Linked DNA regions of Homo sapiens: region 1 is linked to region 2. Evidence: fine-mapped expression QTL. Tissue or cell type: whole blood. Region 2 holds a variant in brackets; the other region holds the start of a gene. All regions are shown on one strand. Distances are between the middles of the regions.

Region 1 (8,094 bases), 590 kb after region 2:
AGCTGAAAAAGTCTTCGCTCAGTCTCTAAAGCCCTGCACCATCCTGTCTGGCCTATCTTTTTGACCTCATTTTCTACCACTTCCCTCTACTGTGCTTAAGGCACACTGGTTCACTCTTGTGTTCCTCCAACAGGAGATACTTAGTGCCGAAAACAATGCGTTCCCTTGCTGAGAATGTTCCTTCTCTCATAACTTGATTATTTTTCTTCAAAACATTCATCAGTACTTGACATTGTATCTTTAGTTTCCCTTTACTAGATTATGTGCTTCATGAGGGCAAGGACTTTTTCTTGTTTATTGCTGTGTCCCAAACACCTACAACAGCCATTCGCTGTTTCACAAGCGCCCCAAAAGGGAGGCATATAGTATTTGTCAAACAACTGAAGAACATCATTTAAAGGTCAGGCAGTTCAAAGTGCACAGTTTCTTTAAGGGCTTCAAACTTAAGTTCATGAGCCTGTAAGTAATGTTAACTAATTCAGGATGTTTACAAGTATGCCCAAACTAACCTGCTCTTCCAACTTAGCAAGTACTATCAGGCATCTTTTTGTCACGTATTAGCTAACAACAACATCTACGTTACACAGCCAGCCAAAATTAAATTTAGAAATCAGTCCAGATATCAATTTCAAAATAGAACAATGACCAGAACCTGAAGGATAAATACAATGCTAGGAAAATAAAACACACTGAAAATGTAAAAATGAAAAAAAAGTTTAAAAATGTAAAAAATGTTTTACAATGTGAAAAAAAAAATTGCACTGTCCTACATTTCAAACACTCTAAAATTAACTTACTTTCTATTGATGGGAAAGCACTAATTAGCAGCTTCGGTGAAAATATTAAAATATGTATTTTTCCTCTACATTCTTATCCTAGTAATCTCAATATTTTTTCAAAGTAAAAAATTGCCCCAAAATAGTTTTAGATTTGTGGTTCTTAAATTTAGTTTGTATAAGTATCACTTAGGGAGAGTGTTAAAAATGCTACCAAGGTCTCACCTCCAAATATTACGGTATATAATGAGGATGAGATCTACACATTTCATAAGCACCCCAGAAGATTATAATGCAGACGGCCCACAGATCATTTTGAAAACTACTTCTAGTCTAGAAAATCCAAATGAACTATACCCAATCCTCCTGGTGAACTTTAAACTAAAATGACCTGGATTTTAGCTTTTGAGGTCCCCCCCCTTTATAAATGTAACTGAACTAAATTACAGAAAATATCAGAAACAAAGAATAAAGAAGAAAAAAAGGTACTTTCATCTCACTACTCCAGGTGACTTTGCTTAGCATTTTGGTATGTTTCCTTTTATCCCGGTCTCTAGGTATATGTTTGTTCCATGTCTTTTCACGTTGTAACCATGGTGCAGTTTCAAGTGCTATCCGTCATATTTAGTGACTGCATTATATCTCATCAAGTGAACCTACCACTGTTTAACCATTCCCTACAGCTGACTACTTCCTCACTACTATAAATAAAGCTGTAAATATTTTTGTATGCAATTTGCAATACTTGAATGCTTCTTACGTGTGGAAAGAAAATCTATAGCACCAAACTGTTTTCCAAAAGGGTTTTTACCACCATCTTTGTCAGAAAATGCTGTTCAGATGTTACCTTTAAATTTTTTGGTGGGATTAATGGAAGGAAAAAATACCACTGTCTTTTAATTTGCACTTCCTAATTACCAGCCAGGTAAAACATTCGTTAATTAGTTGTATTTTTTCTTTCTCTAAGTTATCTATCCTGTCCTTTATCCATTCGTCAATGGAATCTTATTATTTGTTTCTAGTTGTGTGAACTTTACATTCATTTTCTTGTTCATCTTTCTGATTCAACTGTGAACCTTTGTATCTAATTCTGTCCCACTGACCTGCCTGTTTTTGCTTCAGTACTACCCAAGACTCTGCCATTTTAATAACAACACGTTCTACTCAGGCAGCTATTTAAAACCATCTTAGTATAATGAAACAGACATGGTCTTCAGTGTGAGTTAGCTGTTTGTTACCTTGGGCAAGATACTTGACTCTTCTGGGCCTCAGTCCCATTTGTGAAATTGGGGTAAACAATTCTTACGCCTCCCTAACAGGATGGCTGTGATTAAAAGCTAGTAATGCCAAACAATCACCTTTTCATTAGATGTCAATCTACTATCCTCAAATAACCAACAAGCAAATTCTAACATCAAGGGAGGGATTCATTTATAAGCAAATGTGACCTTGTGTGTAGAAACACAAAGCAGGTAAAGCCTCACTTGTCTGTTTTCGTATTTACTTTCCTGGGTCTTGACAACTAATACGTTAATGAAAAACAAAAACAAAAACAAAAAAGTGGCCAGGCGCGGTGGTTCACGCCTGTAATCCCAGCACTTTGGGAGGCCGAGGTGGACGGATCGCTTGACCCCAGGAGTCCGAGACCAGCCTGGGCAACATAGTGAAACCCTCTCTCTACCAAAAATAAAAATAAAAAAAATTAGCCGGGCGTGGTGGCGCGTGCCTGTAGTCCCAAATACTCGGGAGGCTGAGGTCGGAGCATCACCTGAGCCCGGAGAGGTCGAGGCTGCAGTGAGCCATGATCGCGCTACAGCATTCCAGCCTGGGCAACAGAGCAAGACCTTGTCTCAAAAAAAGCGGGGGGAAGGGGGTGACAATAACCCCAAAACATCAGTCCTGCAAGATTTTTCAACTACTCTCTTCCCCCAAACAAAAACATAAAACTTCGCAAATGGGCAATCAGGACAACCTGATCTGCCCCTCTATCCTTGCCACTTGTCTAATTCTGAAGTCTGAGCGACAATCCATAATTGGAATGCGAAACGCCTTTCAATGGTAAAACGCACGCTTGCCTAATGAAGACACTAACGTTTAGTTGGCGACTGAGCCGTCCTGGTTCACAGATTTCGATTTCGACCCTCCGGAGCATCAACGGCTCGGGAGGAAACTGAGGCCCCGGGCGGGTCAGAAGAGCCCAGCCCAAGGTCATCCGGGAGTCCGGGTAGGCCGGGCCCCGGGGATCTCCCAGCCCGGCCCGGCCCGGCCCGGCCCGGCCCGGCCCGGCCCGCGCTGCCGCTCACCTCAGCAGCGCCAGGAAGGCTGCGGGCTCCACGTCCGGCAGCTCGATCTCGGCCGACGTGGTGGCCATGCCGCCGTTGAACATGGCGTCAAAGACGGCGCTGCCGGCCGCCAGCACGAAGCGGTGGGCGGGGATGCGCTGCGGGCCCCCAGCGGCGGCGGCGCCGCGACCCTTGCCCAGTACGAAGCGCACATCGCTCAGCAGCTCCGAGTTGAAGAGGAAGGCGAAGCGCTCCTTCAGCGACGCCTTGGTCGCCTGCCAGTTGTAGAGAGGTTCCCGCTGCAGGGGGAGCAGGGGCCCCAGAGAGGACGGTGAGGGCGGCGGCGGCGGCCCCGCGGGGCCCGGCTCCGCCTCAGCCCCCGACGCCTGCTCCCCAGCTGCGGCAGGCCCGAGTGAGGCCATCCTCCAGCTGCGCGGTTGCCCACGTTATGGACAAAACTCCGCCGCCATCGCCCAGGCCGCCTCCGGAGGCCGGCGCTGCCTCCCTGCCTTCCGGGAAAGGCGCTTCCGGGGGCCTCGCGCCTCCGCAGGCCCCTCCCTGACCGCGCGCGCCCCCGCACGCCCGGGTTGCCGCTGTGCGCGGCCGCGGGAGGTGTAACAGGACTGGACTCCCGGCAGCCCCAGGGCAGGGGCGTGGGGAGCTGGTCCTAGCTCAGCGCTCCCGGAGGTGGAGCTTCTGCAGGCTGGGTGCTGCCGGGCCTACGGGCACCCACCCCCTGGCTCAGTGCCCTGGGTATTCTGACTCAGTAGGTCTGGGGTAGGGCCTGAGAATTTGTAATTTTAAGATGCATCGTGGATCTGCAGGCGGCTCTCACGGCTGCCTTTTTCTTCCTGCAGGCCCCTTATCACCAAGTCCAGCGCCCCCATTGTGTATCTGGGACATGTCCCAAGGCCTGTCCCGAGGAGTGTTTTGCCTGGAAGTGGAGGGGCAGGAAAGTATGGCCAAGGGAACACGTGAGGGAGGGGATGACATGACTTCCCACAACCCTGTACCCCAAGCGTGGCCAAGTCGCCGCTCCAGAAGGCCGCGAAACCCGTGGAAATTCCGGAAGCAGAGGTGGAAGGCTTAGAACCCCAGTGACCTCTCCCCAGGTCCGCAGGTCCCTTTCCCTTCTAATTGACCCTTTGGTTCCGTCCTCTGGGCCTAAGAGACATTTCCTTCTACTGCTTCCACCCCTGTATTTGAAACCCCTCGTGCTTGCCCACCTTCTCTTGTAGCGCTTTTCAGTCCTTGCACTGAACCACTGCCTAAGCTTGAAATTTAAAAAATTAAAAACTAAAACACACACACAATGGAAAAGGCTGTATTATCCCTTCCCAGGCAGTATTTACAACCCGGTCATCATGATTGGGGGACCGAGGCCTTCCTTTTTCTCCCTTCAGTGAGGCAGGCCCTGAGTTAAGTCAGCTGTCAAAAGCAGAACGTAGAAAACCCAAGAAATAGTCCTTGACCAGGCACGTATAGTTGGAAACACCTGTTCTTTGCAGGAAGAGCCTTACAGATTACAAATGCCGTCAAGTAAATAGTAAACCCCAAACCTGGGTTTCTCCTGTAAAATCACTCCACTTGTGAAACCACCAGAGGGGACTTCCAGCTGTTAGGCATTTAGAATGGTAACTTCTTTGGGAGAGGAACGTGCTTGGGAAGAGACTTAAAGTAGTAGGGGCTGAAATAGTGGATGCACAACCCCTTCCCCATTGCCAGCCGGCAATTCCTAAAGACAAAGGGACATCATGCTACTAATGATACCATTATCACACCTAACAAAATTAACCATATCATCAAATCATCTATATATGATTTTTTTTTTTTTGAGACGGAGTCTCGCTCTGTTGCCAAAGCTGGAGTGCAATGGCATGAAGTCTGCCTTCCGGGCTCAAGCGATTCTCCTCCTCAGCCTCCCGAGTAGCTGGGGTTACAGGTGCGTGTCACCACATCCAGCTAATTATTTGTATTTTTAGTAGAGACGGGGTTTCACCATATTGGCCAGGCTCCTCTCCAAGTCCTGACCTCGTGATCTACCCGCCTCGGCCTCCCAAAGTGCTGGGATTACAGGCATGAGCCACCAGGCCTGGTCCTATGTATAATATTTAATGTACAGTTAATATTTGTTTCTCCACTTGTCTCTAAAAAAATTTTTTTTTGAGACGGAGTCTTGCTCTGTTGCCCAGGCTGGAGGGCAGTGGCATGATCTCCGCTCACTGCAAGCTCTGCCTCCCACGTTCACGCCATTCTCCTGTCTCAGCCTCCCGAGTAGCTGGGACTACAGGCACCTGCCACCAAGCCTGCTGATTTTTTTTTTTTTTTGTATTTTTAGTGTGTCCAGAGTTCGTTCCTTCTGGTGGGTTCGTGGTCTTGCTGACTTCAAGAATGGAGCTGTGGACCTTCCTGATGAGTTTTATAGCTCTTAAGATGGCAGGGACCCAAAGACTTCTTCTGAAGAGCAAAAGAACAAAGCCCTTATGTCATGGAAAGGAACCCCAACGGGTGGTTGCAGTCTCTGGGCGTGGGGGCAGGAGGGGAGGGGCCGGCGGGGGTGGGGGGGGTGGAGTCAGCTTTTACTTCCTTATTTGTCCCCGCCCATGTCCTGCTGATTGGTCCATTTTACAGAATGCTGATTGGTGCACTTTACAGAGTGCTGATTGGTCTATTTTACAGGGTGCTGATTGGTCCATTTTACGGAATGCTGATTGGTCCATTTTACAGAGTGCTGATTGGTCCACTTTACAGAGTGCTGATTGGTCCATTTTACAAACCTCTAGCTAGCCACAGAGTGCTGATTGGTGTGTTTTTACAGAGCACTGACTGGCACATTTTACAAACCACTTGTAAGACAGAAAAGTTCTTCAAGTCCTCACCCTACCCAGAAGTCCAGTTGGCTTCACCTGTCATTAGTAGAGACGGGGTTTCACCGTGTTAGCCAGGATGGTCTCAATCTACTGACCTTATGATCTGCCCACCTTGGCCTCCCAAAGTGCTGGGATTACAGGCATGAGCCACTGTGCCTGGCCAAAAATATCTTTCACAGATGACTTTTTTTCCAATCCAGGATCAAATCAATGTTCACATATTATTGACTGTGTTGACTTCTTTGAAGGTCCGGGGAATTGTGGAGTATAATGCTCCACAATCTGGATTTGTCTGGTGGATTCTGTATGATTCATGGTTAGATTCCAGGTTAAACATTTTAGGCAAGAATATGCTGGTGATGTTAAGTACTTCATTGCCTCACTTCAGAAAGCGTATGTTGGTGATGCTAAGCTTGATGACCTGGTGAGGCTGTGACTGTCAGATCCCTCCATTATGAAGGTGTATGATTCTTATGTAATAAGTAATCCATGAGGGTGATGCTCTGAGACTGTTTGACCAGTCTGTTTCCCCAAAAAGCTTTCACCTACTGATTTCAGTATCCATTGATGATTCAGAAAATTAATTCACTTACTACTTTTAAGTGTCATCCCAGGTATTCTAATGCAGGCCTTTCATAGATCACACTCTATAGTATACTATACTAGCTAGTTTAAAAGGAAAGAGATTAAAAAACATAGAATTGGACATAAGAAAGGATATATAAACATAATTGTGGAGTTTAAAAATATGAGTAATTCTATTAGTGGCTTTGAAAATATCAAAGGAATGTACTCGTCTAGAAAACCTGGACAATTCAATTATCTATACAGGACATTAAAACTTTCAAAATAATAACCTTCAGGGAAGACTGGTTCCAGATGAGCTCGTTAAACATGTTATTATTGTTTTAAAGGAAATGTTTAAAATAATACATGTTTGTTATAGAAGTAAGTAGACTTCCAGTTTCAGCCATAATGTACCAACTTGTCTAACCCTCCCACCAAAAACAACTATACAAGCTGGAGTGTGTGTGTGTGTGTGTGTGTGTGTGTGTGTGTGTAAACAACTGTTTGAAGGCATTGTTAAAGAAAAAAATTATTCTGGGCTGTTGCAGTGGCGCACGCCTGTAATCCCAGCACTTTGGAAGGACAAGGCAGGCAGATCACCTGAGGTTAGGGTTTGAGACCAGCCTGGCTAACATGGTGAAACCCCATGTCTACTAAAAATACAAAAATTAACCGGGTGTGGTGACATACGCCTGTAATCCCAGCTACTTGGGAGGCTGAGGCAGGAGAATCGTTTGAACCTGGGAGGCAGAGGTTGCAGGGAGCCAAGATCGTGCCGCTGCACTCCAGCCTGGGCAACAGAGCAAGACTCCATCTCAAAAAAAAAAAAAGAAGAAAGAAAAAAATTATTCTGACACTAGTTAAAATGGTAAGAAAGATTTTATTCAAGATGATTGCAGTGGAAGCATTGCAACAGGAGAGAGAGATCAGGCACAGTTCTGAAAACAACATCAACAGCTGGGCATTTATAGCCAATGAACAAAGTGAAGGGGGGTCAATGGGTGGAAAATTACTAAGATGATGCGTTAAGGGTGGGGAGATTCTTTCTAAGACTGGGTTGGGCAGGCCAAAGACAGGATATGGGCCAAGGTAGAGGCCTAGTTGAGAAAAAAGTCCTAAGGAGCCTGAATAAAAAGTTTGGTCAAGGGAGTTTTTGTCAATATTAAAGAATAACAGATGCTGGCCAGGCCCAGTGGCTCATGCCTGTAATTGCAGCACTTTGGGAGACCGAGGTGGGCAGATCACCTGAGGTTAGGAGTTTGAGACCAGCCTAGCCAACATGGTGAAACCCCATGTCTACTAAAAATACAAAAAAATTAGCCAGGCGTGGTGGGGGGCGCCTATAATCTCAGCTACTTGGGAGGCTGAGGCAGGAGAATTGCATGACCCCGGGAGGTGGAGGTTGTAGTGAGCTGAGACTGTGCCATTACACTCCAGCCTGGGCAACAAGAATGAAACTCCATCTCAAAAAATATATAAATAAATGAATTTTTTAAAAAAGAATAAAAGATGGCCGGGCACAGTGGCTCATACCTGTAATCCCAGCACTTTGGGAGGCTGAGGCAAGTGGATCATGAGGTCAGCCATTTAAGACCAGCC
Region 2 (8,106 bases):
TCTGGGGCTGGGGCCGCTACCTCTGGCTTTTTCTGGGACGAGGCCACTGGGTGAGCCAGGGGCTGGCAGCACACCCTTTGTTCCTCCTGGGCATTGGCTCCAGCGGAGTTGAAAAATGCCACCTGAAGACAAGAGGTGAGTATTCTTGTAGGGGTATACACATAACAACTGGGGCAGGCAGATGGAGCATAGCCCCTTCCTTTCGGGCCTCACAGAGTGCACCTGTTGGTCACAGGTGAAATGGTGTCTGACCACTGGCTCCCAGAAGCAGAGAAAGTCCACAGAAGTCAGAAGGCGGGGAAACCAAGAACATAAGGGGGTTTCGGAGGGACCACAGAGGAAGGTGGCAAAGTAGGGGCAGGGAAAGTCAGGCTCACCATGGCCTCCCGGCTCTCCAGGTCCCCTGGGATGTTCGGCATGGGCCGAAGCGCCTCCTGCTCACTGTCCAGATGTCCTCCTCCATCTCCTGTGGGGGGTGGCCAGAGGGGTCCTCAGACAACCCAACAAGGGAGGTACAGTGGGCCCGCCTCTGCCCCCACACTCACTGTGTAACCTTGAGCCAGCCCCTCCCCAGAGGGGAATGAGCTGTTCTTTATTTTGAATTTTAAGAACCAAGATCTTGCTATATTGCCCAGGCACAGTCCCACTACCGATTGGTGCAGGAATTCTGACCTGCTCCCTTTCTGACCTGAGCCAGTTCTCCCATCCTTAGGCAAGCCGATGACCTGTTCCCAGGAGGTCACCATACTGATACTGAACTTAGTGCGGACACCTTGTCGGCATAATGACCGACACAAAATGCTTAAAAGGTAACCTGACTCTTTGTTCAGGGCTCAGTCCTTTAGATGTTAATCTGACTGGGCCGGTGCACCTAAATAATATATATCCTCCTCAGTCTCTCTGATTCCTAAATTATGCTGCTGTACGGGGAGAGAGGCAGCAGGGTAGTGGAGTCATACCAAGCAACAAGACAGGGTAGTGGCCAGGCATGGTGGCTCACACCTGTAATCCCAGCAATTTGGGAGGCCAAGGCGGGTGGATCACCTGAGGTCAGGAGTTCGAGACCAGCCTGGCCAACATGATGAAACCCCATCTCTACTAAAAACACAAAAATTAGCTGGGCATGGTGGCAGGTGCCTGTAATCCCAGCTACTCAGGAGGCTGAGGCAGGAGAATTGCTTGAACCCAGGAGATGGAAGTTGCAGTAAGCCAAGATTGTGCCATTGCACTCCAGCCAGGGGGACAAGAGGGAGACTTCACCTCGAAAGACAGACAGACAGGCTAGTACGTTTTCCACAAATTTCAATTTTACTCTCTTCCCCCACCACACACACACACACAAAGCATTTGAGGGATGGGAGGAAGAAACTGAGATCACAGGGAAAATTGTAAGAGACATTCAGAAGGACAGGTCTTAGAAATTTACTAGTTTGGGGGGGAGGTCAGAACAGGTGTATATAAAAGAATATTAAGACAGTTCCCAGGTTTAGGCATATGTGACTAGATAGAGTGCTAGGAGATGGATACGTGAAAATTTAAATATCATCATTTTGAACACCCATGTCACTCCAAGTGAGATTCCCTAAATATATGATATACAGACAGATATATGGGTTTGAAACTCTGGAGATGAATACAAATTTAGGAGTCCCTGGAACACAGGTCATGACTTAAGTAATGGGAGTCAAAGATTACTCAGAGAAAGCACAGAATGAGAAGAGAAGAAGTAGGACAAGGAAGAAGAGATCGGAGGAGACCAAGAAAGGGTGATAAGATCAAAACAGGAGAAAAGAATCCGACAGAAGTCTCATTTGATTATCATGTCCCTTCCCAGAGGACAGGGACATGTCTTTTTTGTCTTTTATACCCAATTATCACAGGTCCTGGTGCAGCAGACACACAGTTTTTTTTTTTTTTAATTGTGTTGTACTATTCACAGTTTCCTGTATTCACCAGGGGAGAAAAAAGTAAGTATAAAGAAGCACAGACACAGATGTTTTTACACTGTGTACTAAAGGGGTCAGATTATACACAATATTTTATGCCTTACTTTTTTACTTAATATATCTTAGAAGTTTGCACGTGCTCTTATGGAAAGACTGGCTGCATTTTTTGGTCCACAACAGAACAACAGAATATTATAAAACGGTACACTATAATTTTTATTTAACCAACTCTTTATTGGTGGACATTAAGAATGGAGGAATGTTTCAACAAAGGAACAATCAACAGTATCAAAATACTGCAGAGGGGTCAATTTGGGGACTAAGAGGGGAGCCACTGGATTTGACAACTAGGAGATAAATTTTAGTGCAACGATGAAGGCAGAATCCAGAGTATAATGAGCTCAGTGAAAAAAGGTGAAGACATGTAGCTTATTCTCTCAAGAAACTAGGCTATGATAAACTGGCAGAGGCTCTAAGAGTGGGAGGTGAGTTGTTTTCTCCTTCATGTAAATATATTTACCTTTTAAACACTAGGCCCAATTTTATATCCTATTTCATTTAACTTTATGAACATATTTATGTATGTATGCATGTATGTATGTATCTCATGTGGTGTTTTAGACACTGAAAAATAACTCATTTCTATTATAAAACTGATATCTTTAGATGTTCAGAAGCAACTTCCTAAAAGGAGGTAGCAGTAATGGAGCTATGTCTATCATTCTTTCCCATCAACCCCCTTGATGGAGATGTAAACATGTGTCCATCAAGCCTTTAATTTTTACCTCTTATCTTCATGGCTCTCCATATAAAACTTAACTCTTTTTTTTTTCTATTTGTATATGTATATTTATATGTATATCTATATCGAGAGAGAGAGAGAGAGAAAGAGTCTTGCTATGTTGCCCAGGCTGATCTCAAACTCCTGGGCTCAAGCAATCCTCCCACCTTGGCCTCGCAAAGTGCTGGGATTACAGGCGTGAACCACTGTGCCCAGCCTCAGCCTTAACTCTTAAAATATCTTCAAACCAATATTCTTCTGTTCTAATTTTTAAGAATAGATGTGTTTAAACCAACTAACTTATTTTGACAAAAATTGGAGTTAAGACTCAGACTTCCTCAAATAGTTCTCCTAAAACCATTTACAGAATAATCTATCTTTTCAGTATTAAGTTAAAATACCACCTTTTCCTTATACTAAATTCTCGTTTGCATGACTCTGGTTCTAAACTTCCATTGCCTTTATCTGTCTGGCCCAGGGATAGTCCACAATATTTTATTTACTATCTGGTTGAAAGAGTCTATACTTTATTAATTTTTATTACTTATTCTTCTAAACAAATTTTAGAGTCGTTTTGTCAAGTGTCAAAAATAAATCTGCCAGAATTTGTACTGAAATTTGTGTGTGTGTGTGTATATATATAATACACACACACTATATATAAAATATAAAATGTATATATACAATTTATATATATAAATATTTATAAAATATGAAATATATATATATACACACACACTTTTCTAGTTTTTTTTTTTTTTTTTTTTTTTTTTTTGAGACAGGGTCTCACTCTGTCACCTAGGCTGGAGTTCAGAGGCATGATCTCGGCTCACTGCAACCTCTGCCTCCCAGGCTCAAGTGCTCCTCCCACCTCAGCCTCAGAAGTAGTTGGAAATACAAGTGTGTGCCACAGACACCCAGCTAATTGTCATCTACCCGCCTCAGCTTCCCAAACTGTTTGGATTACAGGTATGAGCCACTGTGCCCAGCAGAAATTACATTTACAAATTAATATGAAGACATGGTGATAACTAACATATTTATAACATGAAATCTGCTCATCCAGGAACATAGAATGCAAATCTTTCATTCCACTCAGCAAAATTTTGTCCTGTCCTTGATAAAAGTCCTGCACATCTAAGTTTATTCCTAGGTATTTAATTTTTGCTGAAATACCTGAAAAAATACTTCATCACTATATCTTCTATGTGATTATAGCTAACATTGGGGAAGGCTATTGATTTTTATATAAAAGAACTTTTAACCAGTAATCTTAAAAATTGTTTTTTCTCAGTTGGTTCCTTTGGATATTTTTAGGTAAACAATCATGTCAACTGAAAATAATGATTATTTTTCTATAAAGACTATGACATCACAGGAAAATACAGTAAATACTTTTTAAAAGAATATAAAAGGGCCAGGCACAGTGGCTCACGCCTGTAATCCCAGCACTTTGGGAGGCCAAGGTGGGCAGACCATGAGGTCAGGAGATCGAGACCATCCTGGCTAACACGGTGGAACCCCATCTCTACTAAAAAATACAAAAAATTAGCCGGGAATGGTGGCGGGCGCCTGTAGTCCCAGCTACTGGGGAGGCTGAGGCAGGAGAATGGTGGGAACCCAGGAGGTGGAGCTTGCAGTGAGCCGAGACCACGGCACTGCACTCCAGCCTGGGTGACAGAGCAAGACTCTGTCT[CAA/C]AAAAAAAAAAAAAAAAAAAAAAAAAAATATATATATATATATATATAAAAAACTATAGAGAATATGACCTCAACTATTAAGCATATGTGTAAGGGTTATGTATTTTAATAGCAAAGAAAAAATATATACTGGTAGAAAATGACCATCATGTCAACAGTCAATAGTGGTTATATTAGATAGAGAAATTATGGGAGACTTTAATTTTTTTCTTTTATCTTTTCTGTACTTTACCAATTTTCTCAACAATGGTTGCTTATGAGTTTTAAAATTAAAAAAAGGTTTTAAAAATTTTTCCAACATGGAAAGTTATATTTCTTTATATACTAAAACAAAAACAAAACTTTCTATTTGAATACCTATGGCAAAACCCTATCTCTACAAAAAATACAAAAAATTAGCAAGGTGGGGTAGTACACACCTGTAGTCCCAGCTACTCTAGAGGCTGAGGTGGGAGGATCACCTGAGTCCCCAGAGAATGAGGCTCCAGTGAGCCGTGATCATAGCACTGCATTCCAGCCTGGGAGACAGAGAAAGACCCCATCTCAAAAAAAAAAAAAAAAGAAAGAAAGAAAAAAGAAATATCCACAATGATCTGAAATGCCTATCTGTATGAGACTGTCCTTTGTTCACATTTTTTCAAGCAAATATCACACAATAAATTGAATGCAGGTACAAATGACATATCAAACATCAAAGAAATTTGCAAAAGATGTAAGACTGTACTACCTTGGGTTTAGAAATTTTCTTATCATAAAAGCATTTATAACAATATTTTGTGAGCTTTTAAGGAATATTTTAAGTATTTCTGATTTAATTTCTAGTGATAAATACCAATAGATATAACCCACATACACAAAAGCTCCTTGGGCCCTCAATATACTTTTAAGAGTGTAAAGGAATCCTGACCCCAAAACTTTGAGAACTGCTGCCTTCCCCTCTACTTTATTCCTTCCCTAGAATTTCTTCCTTGGAAGAAACATTCCTTTGCCATTCTATGTTAACTTACATAGTTCCATTGAGGCCAGTTTTGCTACCTCTCTCCCATCTTTCCACATCCCTCTCTTGACACAAAACCTGACCAAAGGACTCTACCGGCCCGCCCCATTTCCAGTGATTAGCTGTCAGGTGGGCTAAGCCAAGAAAATCTGGGTTTTCCCTGAGACTAGACCTCTCTTTCTGGGAGATACGGAATCACAGGGACAAGGCTGGCCCTGTCAGAATTCATCTTGTCTAAATGGGAAGAGGTTAGGCAAGTTTCTAGAATGCCAGACTGCTTTCTAGAAAGTCAAAGATAATTATACTTTCTGCCACGACTGTGAAAATGCCCATTTCATTGCACGCTTTCTAACATTTATACCAATCTGATAAATAAAAGCTGGTACCTAGAAGAAAAAAAGGCTGGGTATGGTGGCTCATGCCTGTAATCCCAGTACTTTGGGAGACCAAGGTGAGTGGATCACCTGAGGTCAGGAGTTCGAGACAAGCCTGGCCAACATGATGAAACCCCATCTCTAGTAAAAACACAAACATTAGCCGGGCATGGTGGCAGGCCCCTGTAATCCCAACTACTCGGGAGGCTGAGGCAAGAGGATCACTTGAACCTGGGAGGTGGAGGTTTTAGTGAGCCAAGATCATGCCATTGCCCTCCAGCCTGGGTGACAAGCTGAGACTTTGTCTCAAAAAAAAAAAAAAAAAAAAAGTTTCCATACAATATAATTTGTTCCATCTCTAAAAACCAATTCAGCAATAACTGAAAGCCACCACTTGGAAGGTTTCAAGGATTTAGCTCTACCTGTTGATGATGTCCAAAGCATTAGTTAAGGTAGAAAAAAAATACACACACACACACACACACACACACACACACACACACTCACCCCTATGTAGTCAGTACCAGGAAACACGAAAGACTAGATGGTACAGTCATCCAACACAAAGCACACAATAACTGAAGGCACTGTAGAGGAGTAACTTATGACACAGATCTACAATATTGAGTGAAAATGCAGATTACAAAAAAAAAATCTGATTTTTTAAGGGAGAGGGAACACATACAAGCAAAGGAGAAAAGAGATGAGCAGATGACTGAAAGATACAAAATTCTGATAGTGGTACATTCTGAGTGGTAGAATTATCAGTATTATTTTCTAGTTTTGCCTAAAAATTTTCTAAATTTCTTAAGAACTTTTTGTTATCCATATTATCAAATATCCATCACCCCAGGAAACTTAACCTTGAGCACAAACTCTACAACAAGTTCAATGTTTGTTCAGTTTAATATTTAAGAGACAACCTATTTTGAAAGACATCTAAAATGATGACCAATATTTAAACCTATGCATTAATATTTTTCAATCATATCCTTCACATTTTGTAATTTTGATAAGGTTAAGCTTTAGATCCATCTTGAAAAGATAAGCTTTCTGTTTGTCTTTAAAATATGACCCACAATATGCCTGTTTTTAAACAGTGAATGATGCTCTAAAATCACAATATAAATTCAGGCAGTGCTCCTTACATGGAAAGTTTAAGTACTTCTAACACTGCTCTTTTTCACTTGTTATGAAAACACAGAACAATTATCTAAGCATCTAATTATTCAGGTCCTTTGTTTCTCCTCCAATCTATTAGTTTTATAGTAATTTTAGGGCCTGTGAGGATGAAGCTGTCTGTGACAGCTACCACAAAGGTTACTATAGGTGGACAAATTTCAAACAAGTTTATCACCACTACCATCCCCACCATAAAACTGTCTCAATCAAGGGCAACACAATTCAATATTAGCCAAGACAACCTCTTTACCTGTCACTGCTTAAGAAAAGGATTTTTGGTCTTATTTAGAAATAACTTTCCGTACCTATTTTTCTCCATAAATCCACTGAGACCAATGTGTGGCTCTATCGCAAGCACCAGCAAGCAAAACTGCCTGCTAGAAGGTTCAGTTTTTGTATCTTTCCAAATGTAGAACACAGCTATCTTCAAGGATTTCATAATTTTTTGAAAATTGATGCACAAACTTCTTGAAAGTTCAGAGACACAGCAGCTGTAATTATTCTGAAGGCTGGTTACGGGACACATTACCTTCATACTTTGCTGTTTAAGAAATGTGGGGTGGAGAATCAAGTAAACTGATAGAATTTCCATATAAAATTCTAAGTGCTCTGAGAACAAAAGAAACTTAAAATACACACACACACACACACACACACACACACACACACGGTTTTCCCTACTAATCATTTTACAACTAAACAACCAAGTTGCTAAACCAGAGCCCACAAAAGCAGAGTCAAAGTTCTAACACTTGGTAAAAGAAAAATGCACACATACCCCTGTGAGCTAAAAAAAAAAATGCTTAAGTATTCAAAGACAGCAATTACAGCTACTGAGAACATCACTGTAAGCAAACTGAGGCAGAGAAAACAAACGTGCTGATGAGGATTTGAACCACCTAAGCTGCAGAAACCCACTGGATGGTTTCCTAGGTTCCGAGTTGGCATTATCTTTCAGAACAATCTTCTAGAAGAGATCACATAACACTGTTACAAAGGATCTGGAGAAAGGGACCCTGGCTTCATCACTGTGGCTCTCCAGTCATGCTTTACATTTGGCAGTGACTATCTCCATTCAACTCAATTCCCTAACCCTAAACTAGCTGACATTTATCAAATACTGCCCTT

Evidence for each region. PIP is the estimated chance that this variant, and not a neighbour inherited with it, causes the effect.
Region 1: it holds the start of BTBD1, and the variant in region 2 is fine-mapped to the expression of BTBD1 in whole blood (INTERVAL, PIP 0.99).

Annotation. Positions count from the first base shown.
Region 1 is chr15:83,063,672-83,071,765 of GRCh38, forward strand. It overlaps BTBD1 (BTB domain containing 1), which reads right to left and starts at 3,581. Exons shown (of 8, transcript NM_025238.4): 1 at 3,080-3,581. The coding sequence starts at 3,480. It overlaps MIR4515 (microRNA 4515), which reads left to right and starts at 3,664; the gene lies at 3,664-3,744. RefSeq lists silencers at 2,899-3,068, 3,309-3,788, 5,665-5,714 and enhancers at 3,849-3,968, 3,979-4,028, 5,466-5,760.
Region 2 is chr15:82,477,461-82,485,566 of GRCh38, forward strand. It overlaps the pseudogene GOLGA2P10. Among named protein-coding and RNA genes, the nearest start is that of GOLGA6L9, 52 kb to the left of the region's middle. The variant CAA/C (reference allele first, on the strand shown) is at 4,424.